Linked DNA regions of Homo sapiens. The protein of the gene in region 1 interacts with the protein of each later gene in a pairwise test. Each region holds a gene or a part of one and is shown in the gene's direction. Other genes may lie near its edges. The genes, in order: PTK6, EXOC5 and GAB1.

Region 1 (3,757 bases):
AGCACCAACAGCAACTGTGGGGACCCAGAAACTCTGCGCAGGTGTGGCCAGCAGGGCTGGGGACGCAGGGAGGCGTCGGAGTTGGGGTGGCCACACAGCTCACGCTCTCCCTCCCAGTGCGGGACACGCAGGCTGTGCGGCACTACAAGATCTGGCGGCGTGCCGGGGGCCGGCTGCACCTGAACGAGGCGGTGTCCTTCCTCAGCCTGCCCGAGCTTGTGAACTACCACAGGGCCCAGAGCCTGTCCCACGGCCTGCGGCTGGCCGCGCCCTGCCGGAAGGTAGCCGCTCCGCCCTGACTTGGTCACGCGGGGTCAGGCTGGGGGGTCACAGGCTGGCATTTCCTACTGGGAGAGGTTGGCCGGGCAGCATGGGAGGGGTCCTGACTCACTGACCTGGGGCCCACTGGAGGGAAGCCCATGGTTCTGCAGAGCACAGGTGTTTGCCTGAGTTGGGGGTGGGGCCAGGAGACCATCCCCGGGCCTGGCCACTCTCGGAGAGGCCAGCGGCACTCTGCAGGGTCCTGGCTCCGGTCTGTCTGGGTGTTTCATGCTGGGCTGGGGGCAGCCCCCAGGAGAGTCCACCCTTGTGTCAGACACTCAGAAACCCCCAACCCAGGCTGATCGTGGCCCTAAATCTGAGGCTAAATCCAGGCTCCCTGTGCTGGCTTCAGACTGGCACTTCCTGAAGGATGAGCCCCTGCCCTGTGTCCCCGACTCTTCCTCCAGCACGAGCCTGAGCCCCTGCCCCATTGGGATGACTGGGAGAGGCCGAGGGAGGAGTTCACGCTCTGCAGGAAGCTGGGGTCCGGCTACTTTGGGGAGGTCTTCGAGGGGCTCTGGAAAGACCGGGTCCAGGTGGCCATTAAGGTGATTTCTCGAGGTGAGTGGGCCCCGATCAGGGCTCTGTGTGGCCCCGTGCCTGCCCTGGGCCACCCTCCCACCCCGCCAACAGGGACCTCTGGCCTCGAGCCCCAAGCAGCACCCACAGCGTCCATGCGAGAGTGGTTCCCTTTCAATTGCACCTATGTTTTTACCTAAATACATTTATTATAAAAGAAAATTTTAGGCCGGGCACGGTGGCTCACATCTGTAATCCCCACACTTTGGGAAGCCAAGGTGGGCGGATCACGAGGTCAGGAGTTTGAGACCAGCCTGGCCAACATGGGGAAACCACGTCTCTACTAAAAATACAAAAATTAGCCGAGTGTGGAGGCATGTGCCTGTAGTCCCAGCTACTCGGGAGGCTGAGGCAGGAGAATCGCTTCAACCCAGGAGGCGGAGATTGCAGTGAGCTGAGATCGCGCCATTGCACTCCAGCCTGGGCGACAGAGCAAGACCCCGTCTTGGGAAAAAAAAAAAAGAAAGAAAGAAAGAAAATTTAAAATCCTTGACGTAATGGAAAGCCATTAAAATAGATCACTGGAAATGGGTAAAACTTCCCTGGAACCCGTCTGGGCCCCAGCAGAGGTCTGGCCTCTATGTCAGAGGTCTGGGCCGGGCACAGGAAGAAATCGGGTGGCCACCACAGCCCCGTGGGTACGCCAGGCTGGGGCCCTGTGGGGCCGGCTGCATCTGCCATTTCGTGGCCTCGGGAGCCAGGTGCCCTGTCGGGGGCAGGAGGTCTGTGTGTCCTGCACAGCTGCTGGGTGTGATGGCTGCTGTGTGTGGGGGCAGGGCCTTGGCCTCTTCCTTGGGGCCTGGGGGGTCAGGGGCTGCATCCACCGAGGCCACCCGTCCCCGCAGACAACCTCCTGCACCAGCAGATGCTGCAGTCGGAGATCCAGGCCATGAAGAAGCTGCGGCACAAACACATCCTGGCGCTGTACGCCGTGGTGTCCGTGGGGGACCCCGTGTACATCATCACGGAGCTCATGGCCAAGGGCAGCCTGCTGGAGCTGCTCCGCGGTGAGTGGCATGGGCCGGGGCTCTTGCTGGAGGCAGCGGGGGCACGTGAGGAAATAAAGTGCACACCCCCCCCCCACGTCTACACACACACACACGTAGACACACAGACACACAGACACACACATGCACACACAGACACAGACACAGACACACAGAGACACACACGCACAGACACACATGCACACACACATGCACACAGACATACACATGCACACACAGACACACACACAAGACACATCACATGACACACACAGACATACACATAGACACAGACACACACACAGAGACACACAAAACAGATCACACGGACACACACAGACACACACACAGATCACACGGACACACACAGACACACACACACACAGACACACACTGATCCAGACACACACACAGACACACACAGATCACATTGGCTCAAAGACTTCATCCTCTCTAAGTTCCATTATTTCCTTTCTCACCAAAACCAAAGACAATCGCTGCCAGGGAATGGAGATGCCCGTGCGTGAAGGCGCAGTTTGGATTCCGATGTTAGAATGGGAGGGAACGTTGTGGTATAGGAAAAATGCCGTGTGTGTCTGAGGAGAGCTACACTGAGGCACCACGCACGTTTGCGCTCTGAGCGAAAGGCTCCGTACCCCTCGCCCTCACACAAAGGGCTTGATCATCTCAGACAGTCCCCACGCCCTTCAGGGTCCTCCGGGAGGGAATGTGGGGTAAAACAGGCACCACCAGGCCGCAAGCCGCTGACAGCCATTCTCCTGTTCGAGTTCCCACTGCCTACATCACGCAGTCATGAGCCTCTTCGCTGGTCCTTCTGCGTCCAGCTCCTCCCGCGTCATCACAAACTTCCAGAAGGGAAATCGCTGGGCTAGACCACTAGGAACTGCTCCTTGGTTCTTTTTTTTTTTTTTGAGACGGAGTCTCACTCTGTCGCCCAGGCTGGAGTGCAATGGCGCAGTCTCGGCTCACTGTAACCTCCACCTCCTGGGTTCAAATGATTCTCCTGCCTCAGCCACCTGAGTAGCTGAGATTACAGGCACCTGTCACCACGCCCAGCTAATTATATATATATATATATATATATATATTTTTTTTTTTTTTTTTTGAGACGGAGTCTGGCTCTGTCGCCCAGGCTGGAGTGCAGTGGCGTGATCTCGGCTCACTGCAAGCTCCGCCTCCCGGGTTCACGCCATTCTCCTGCCTCAGCCTCCCGAGTAGCTGGGACTACAGGCGCCCGCCACCACGCCCGGCTAATTTTTTGTATTTTTAGTAGAGATGGGGTTTCACCGTGTTAGCCAGGATGGTCTCGATCTCCTGACCTCGTGATCCATCCGCCTCAGCCTCTCAAAGTGCTGGGATTACAGGCGTGAGCCACCACGCCCAGCTTGCTCCTTGGTTCGTGATAAACAGTTGCCTTCCAGAAGGGCGGTAGCTGGCCTGCAGTTCCAATTTTCAATCAGGCCAGCTGCCCTTTGCCCCGGCCCCTCCTCTGAGCCCGCAGAGCTTGGAGGCAGATGAGACATGGCCCAGCCTCCCCAACCCTTCCCCACCTCAGCTGGCTCAGCTGACCCCAGGCTCTGCTCCACTCCCCTCTGCAGACTCTGATGAGAAAGTCCTGCCCGTTTCGGAGCTGCTGGACATCGCCTGGCAGGTGGCTGAGGGCATGTGTTACCTGGAGTCGCAGAATTACATCCACCGGGACCTGGCCGCCAGGAACATCCTCGTCGGGGAAAACACCCTCTGCAAAGTTGGGGACTTCGGGTTAGCCAGGCTTATCAAGGTAGGGCCCTCAGAGGGCGTGGCTGGGGTCGTGGCCGGGGCGTGGCCGGAGGGCTGGGGGCTTCCTGTGT
Region 2 (3,056 bases), on another chromosome or scaffold:
GGATAACATGGGGGATTCACATGAAGTTATGTGAAAATATTTTATAAGGAATAATACCTAAGTGCCTCTCTTAAGTTCTCCAGTAGAATGTATTTTCAATTTTTGCCACAAGGGGGAGAAGTTATTTTTATAGTAATATGTACATTTTTTTATTTTAAAAATAGAATTCACACAACTTTACAGCATCTATGAACATTTTGCTATCCCAATTATGTGTGTGTGTGCATGTGTGTAAACAAGATTCTGAAAGTCTTGCATGAGAAAAATTTCAAAGGAAATTAATAACAAAACCAAAACAGTTTTGAAGAACATGTGCACAGTGGACACAGGAATTGAACAAAGTTTACCATGATTAACATTATGTTTTCTTAGTTATATATCACATTGAATTCCTTTATCAACTCTAATAAGAATCTACTGATTAGTGTTCTACATTCTGCTTTTTAAAGAAAAATTTTTGAAACAATCAGACTTAACAGAAGGGTTGTAAATACTGTACAAATAAAATTTTTCCCTTTTGAGAATAAGTCGCTGTCATGATGCTGCACCACCCTCCAATACTTTTGTATTTCCAAGAAGAAAGAATGCTTCAGTATAACTACAATACATGAAAATTGGGAAGTTAACATTGACATATTACTACTATCTAATCCTCAGACACCAATCATTTTACTAGCTGTCCTAATTCCTTTTAAGGATCTCAGTTCAAAATCATGTATTGCTTTAGGTTGTAGTGGCTCTAGTCTCATTCATTCTGACACAGTTCCACAGTCTTTCCTTGACTTTTTTGACTCTGGACATTTTTATAGATTATAGGGTAGTTACTTTGTAAAACACCCCTACATTTGGATTTCTGTTTCCACGTAATTAGATTCTGTTTGTGCTTTTTGGCAGACATACCACGGATGCAACTCTGTGTTATTGTTGCATCCTATCACATAGTACACAATTTCAATTTGCCCCATTTCTGATGATGTTCATTTTTATCACTTTCTTAAGGTACTATTTACCAGGCTTCTCCACTTTAAAACTATTACTTTTCCCTTTGTAAATATTTTGGAGGTAGATATATATTAATAGATACAGACATATATAGGTCCCCCTTATTTATTTATTTGCAGACAGAGTCTCGCTCTGTTGCCCAAGCTGGAGTGCGGTGGCGTGATCTCAGCTCACTGCAACCTCTACCTCCTGGGTTCAAGCGATTCTCCCACCTCAGCCTCCCAAGTAGCTAGGACTACAGGCACATGCCACCATGCCTGGCCAATTTTTCTATTTGTAGTAGAAATGGGGTTTTGCCGTGTTGGTCAGGCTGGTGTCAAACTCCTAGCCTTAAGTGATCTGCCCACCTCAACCTCCCAAAGTCCTGGGATTACAGGTGTGAGCCACCTTAACCAGCCATCCTTTATATATATATATATATATATATATATAATATTAATATATATAAAAATATATGTATATGTGTGGTGTGTGTGTATATATATACATATGTGTGTGTATATACACGTGTGTTTATACACGTGTGTGTACATATACACGCGTGTGTATATATACACACGTGTGTGTGTGTATATATATATACTAATCAGAATTCTCTTGATATCACTATGTATTCATAGTTTTCTGTTCAACTAATTATAATCTGTCATTTTACCAAATCTCAAATTATCCCAAATTTGGTCAGAAGTAGCCTCTTCAGGTTGTCTCCTGTGTCGTTTTGGCATGTTCCCATCATTTTTACAGCAATTTATTCTGGGCACAACAGGATTTTCCAAGGTCATCTTGTACTTGCCTTGCCCCAGCTCTGGAATCAGCCATTCCTCCACCTTTTAGTGAAATTGGCAGTTAGAAATCAAGATTTGTGCATGAGATGTGCTTATTATTATTGAGATGTCTCACCCTACTCTTTCTCAATAGATAATGCTAGGGGGCTTTATGTGTGCATACACACACACACACTCACGCATATTTTAAATATACACCCACACCCATGCGCCCCTCTGCAACATCTTCCTCACCTCACTTGAGCTTCCATACTCCATACTGGGCTTCCCCTCTCTCTGGAGGAGACCATCCTCATCTCACATAGCTCTTGAAGTTTTGGCTTTAGGACCAAATTGAGGGAATAAGAATGGTCATTGCAGAAATCCTGTAAAAATTTTAAAATATTAAATTTAAAAATTACAATTTTATCACGCAGAAACAACTATATTTTTGGTGGAAGTTTTTTTTTTTTTTTTTTAATGTAGTGAGCAAATTAGTAAAGCTGAATTGAGGAGGGGGTAAAGTGTTATGCCCAAGACACAGAACTTACATTTTGAAAGAATTAAATTTGAAATGCATACCGTATGTTTTTCTATTATACAATCTCCTTGCTACTGTAATTGCTATTTAATAAGAGTGCATCAGAGAAACTGTATGAATGGAAACCTGACCATTAAGCACTGAATACCAATAGGATATTTTTACTAATAAAGTTCAAAGGAAAAATGATCATACAATTGTTGTTTTTGTAGGCCATTAAAAATATATATGCTAAGAAGGATAGACTTCATGTGAGAAAGGAGTCTCTGGGCTGGATCTATTATAATAGATGTTACAATAAACTTAATGTGAAATAGGAGTCAAATGGAGGCACAAAGAAGTTAAATAACTTCACCAAAATTATATATCTAAAAAGTAATAGAATTCAAACTTACATCCTTAGGCTTCTATAGCCTATGTTTTAACCACTTTGCTCTGTTACCTCTAAGAAGATTTCATAAAAGAGGTCACATTTCAGCTGAGCTTTAAAAAGGCAAGTAGCATTTCATCAGTGGTGGAGGAGAAGGGGAATTCTAGGCAGAAGTAACTTATACTTGCAGGGTGTGGAGGCATGAGTCACTGGTATATCACTGAATGGAAAAACTGCTGTGTGAGTAGAGCTCAATGTGTGGGGTCCATCAAAAAGGGCAAGTTAAAACGAATATTTGGATTGGGGTTAGCTTATTTAGAGCCTTTAGGCCGGGCGTGGTCGCTCATGCCTATAATCCGAGCACTTTGAGAGGCCAAGG
Region 3 (3,757 bases), on another chromosome or scaffold:
TTTGTTTTGTTTTTGAAATTTTACTTTAAAGAGCAATATAATCCTATTGATTGGATCTATGGTTCTTAATCATGGTGGCACATTAGAATCATCTGTTGAGTGTTTAAACCTGCCTATTCCAATCTTCACCCCACCCCCATACACTACAATTTAGTTGGCTTAAGGTGAAACCCCAAGCTTTTTTTTTTTTTAAGCAAAGCTCTCCGGATATTTCTAATGTGCATTCAGGGCAGAGAACCCATGGACTACCCCCGACCTCTTCTCTGATCTTCTCTCTTGCCTGCCCATATATTGGCCACTTCCTCAATAATTAGCTCTTCCAGTAAAGGTACAGGGAAAAGATGAGGGAATTTTGGCAAGCATCACACCAGGCATGTGAGCTGTCATTTATACCACAGAGAACTCACAAAACAGGGTGTACAGCAGTTACAATGTTTTTCTTTAAAGCTGAAGCCATTTGCTAGTTAGGTTAATTAGGCAAAATTTGTGAATTTGTTAGTAACGTTACAGCCATATAGGCAAAATTTGTGAATTTGTTAGTAATATTACAGCCATTAATGGCTTGGGGTTAATCCAGGTTAAAAAATGTTTCCTTCCCACCAAATAGTGGGACTCCCATCTGTACTTTCTTGCCAGTATGTACATACCCATACTCTAGGGTGTGTGATAAGCCTGCCTTAAGACCTAGCTTCAGTGTGACAGTTCTACAGGTGAGCATATCCAATTTGCTAAATACAGGAAATGTTTAAAAGAATAGTTCTTTTAAAATGATGTTTAAAAACATCTCTCTTATGTCTGTAGAGTTTTAAAAACAAATTAATTTGTTTACACACCTCTATGCTTGCCTGACCAATTCTTGAATGGGCTGGGCAGATCGCAGTTATATCACTATCCCTGCAATGCATAAATAGTATGAGAACTTCTGTATTTTTAATCCTTGCCTCAAACATTTTGTATTGCGTATTTAGCAGACATTGACTGAGCACCTCCTTGGCGCTAGGCAATGGGAAAGGAAAGAAGAAAGGTTAAAATGGCTCCAGCCCTCAGTACATTCAAATGCACAGATGTCAAATGATTTAGGAAAAAGGTGGAAATGGAGAGCTCAGAGCCAACTCGGATGGTGCCCCGAAGAGGGCTGAGCTAAATCTAGGGGGTAGATTTTGTGCCAAGGGGTGAGAGGCAGGACAGAGCAGAGTGTTTGGGAAACTACAAGTATTTCCAATGTGGTTGGAAGGCAGAGGGGCAAGAAGTGACGCTGGAGAGATTTAGGGGTGGAGATGGGGCGGGAGTTGATTGGAGGGTCCTGTGTACCCTGCCAGAGTTTGGGTTTTATCCTGTAGGCACAGGGGGCAGTCACTGAGCATAGGGAATTGGCTTCAGAATTTGGTACTTTTAAGTTACCCCAAAATCCAGACTTAACTGTTGACTTCTTGTTAACAAATTATTTGTTCAACTCAAAATTGGAGTGACTATTGCATATAAGAAATGGCTACAAAATAAGTTTTTACATAGTCCTTCTCAACTATGCAGACATCTTGCAAATTTCAGCTTCTTCATTACCTGCTCGTAATGGAAGTCTAGTCGTTAAAATGATTTTTTGTGTGAATTTCTTTTAAAATTACTTTGAGTATTTGGTTTTGAAGGTTTCTAGAAAGCCTGTCCTTTTTGTCTGCTCCTGCTCTGCAGGATTGGCAAGGCAGTGTACGGCTTTCTCTGGAGCTACCAAGGCAGCAAGGATAAAAATAGGACAAACTTTAAGAATCTCAGATATTTTCAGATAACAAAGACTGATTTATGTGGGCCCGTTTTGTGCTCTGACAAAACATAGAGACGCTTTTGTGCTGTGATTAGCAAGGGTGCTGATGTCAGTTCTCTTGTCGAGCATCAAGCTTTATTCTGTGGCTAAATTGTGCTTTGTACCATAATCCAGAGAACCTTTGTATCTGCCTTATTAAAGTGTGTAGTTTATGTAATTGCTTTTGTTTTCCAGCTTAATCTGTGCCAGATTCAATGAGGGTGACTCATTTTGTGACTGAGACAAACATTCACATTTGGACCATGTTAAAAATAAATAAATAAATGGCAGGTGCTGCTTGGCTAAATTCTGTGTTTTAATGCTGTAATTTCCTGCCGTAAGGGTTCACGTCTTGTATAATGTCTACTCAGCCTCTGTAATCACTAGCCCAATATATCTAATGCACCTCAATTCATTGCTACTCATTTCTTGATTATTTATTTTAGTTCCTAAGGGCTTTTTGAATTGTAACAATGTGATTTCAACAGGGAAGCCAAGGAATGGATGGGGGGGAGCCACAGTTAGCCGGAAAACAAAGAGTGACACATAAGCTGTAGCAAAAGGACATGTTCTGTGCTTTTCTGTTTTTGCCATTTTCCCAAGATGTTTTGTGCATGTGTTTTGGTAAAGTTGTCTTAGTTATGTTTATTTTATTATGTATATGTTCAGTATTGGAGCTCTTTTTCTCAAGTGGAAGATGCTTTGAAAGCACTCTCTTCATTGTGGCCCATGTATCAAATCTAATCTCAAAAATTTTACAAGTCTACTCTCTCAGGAGAATTCTGTTTATTTATTGTACAGATATGCTATGTACTAGGCACTGTGCTATGGCAAATAAAGCAGGCGTGGTCACTATCTTCTTGAACTTTTCAGTCTGTTTGGGGAGTTACGTACTACACAAATAAATACAAAGAAAAATTGAATTGCAAAATTACACAAATCACTACGTAGGTAAGTAATAGGATCTCTAAAACTATGCTATTAGTTTACACTGGAGTTGGTTGCATTGAGGGTGGTCAGGGAAGAGAAGCCCTGAAGGTTGGAGTTGGCCAGGCAAAAAGTGAGGGAAAGAATATAATGTATTTAGGGGAAAACATGTGCAAAGTCCCTGAGGCAGGTAAGAGTTTAGCCTCCTATAAACCCTATTATTGGAGGGGGAAAAGTGACAGTTGATGGAAATTGAGAGAAAAAAGACAGGAAACTGTATTTAAAAGATGAACTATACAAGCATAGCAATATGGTACTATTTATTAATAGTATAGGGGCAAATGACACTCTATACAGTGCAACAGCCTCTGAGAGTCTCCTGAAGTGCAGTATAGAAATGGATGCTTACAATACTTAGTCTGAATCATTGGGGAATGGATTATGTTTGGTGAAGTATGTAGTAAAGCATTTTAGAAAGATTTGCGTGCAAGACAATAAAGTTTTAAAAAGTCATTTCTGTATTTAAAGATGAAGCTTCACTATCTGGAGAAATCACTTACTGAATGATATGATTTCTTGAGGGCCCTGCATAAATAACATCATATTTTATATTCTTTTGCTTTACTTCTGCATTACTTTTTAAAGCTTACTGCTTGAGAGGGAAGTATCCATAGAGGGATAATTTTACTAAGAGATGATATTTATTTATTTTGCAGTAAGTAGATGCATATTCAATGAATGGATTTTTATAGTCCAGAAAACAGTGCTAAAATCATGTGAATCCAACACTTTATGACTTTTCAATATTATCTAAAACATCTATAGGACTCTACCCTGCCTTCCCTGGACACAAATTATATACTTATTCCTTTGAGCTGCGTGAAGAATGAGAAGTTAATTTAAAATGTTGATGATTAAAGACCTATATAATGTTTTTAGGCCTTTGTGATCTCTGGTCATCCTCTTGTTAAAGGATTGCCTAAATTTTTCTGTAGAGGAATGCTTGTTCATGTAGCAATACCTCTGCAGACATTT

Evidence for each region.
Region 2: the proteins of PTK6 (region 1) and EXOC5 interact in binary tests that used the Homo sapiens proteins (3 or more experiments, as listed by UniProt).
Region 3: the proteins of PTK6 (region 1) and GAB1 interact in binary tests that used the Homo sapiens proteins (3 or more experiments, as listed by UniProt).

What each region holds. Positions count from the first base shown.
Region 1 is NC_000020.11:63,530,676-63,534,432, reverse strand, and holds part of PTK6 (protein-tyrosine kinase 6), read left to right. Parts: intron 1-117; coding exon 118-281; intron 282-728; coding exon 729-882; intron 883-1,745; coding exon 1,746-1,907; intron 1,908-3,505; coding exon 3,506-3,687; intron 3,688-3,757. UniProt on the Homo sapiens protein: Non-receptor tyrosine-protein kinase implicated in the regulation of a variety of signaling pathways that control the differentiation and maintenance of normal epithelia, as well as tumor growth.
Region 2 is NC_000014.9:57,199,947-57,203,002, reverse strand, and holds the end of EXOC5 (exocyst complex component 5), read left to right. Parts: 3' UTR 1-2,496; downstream 2,497-3,056. UniProt on the Homo sapiens protein: Component of the exocyst complex involved in the docking of exocytic vesicles with fusion sites on the plasma membrane.
Region 3 is NC_000004.12:143,409,872-143,413,628, forward strand, and holds part of GAB1 (GRB2-associated-binding protein 1), read left to right. Parts: intron 1-3,757. UniProt on the Homo sapiens protein: Adapter protein that plays a role in intracellular signaling cascades triggered by activated receptor-type kinases. Plays a role in FGFR1 signaling. Probably involved in signaling by the epidermal growth factor receptor (EGFR) and the insulin receptor (INSR).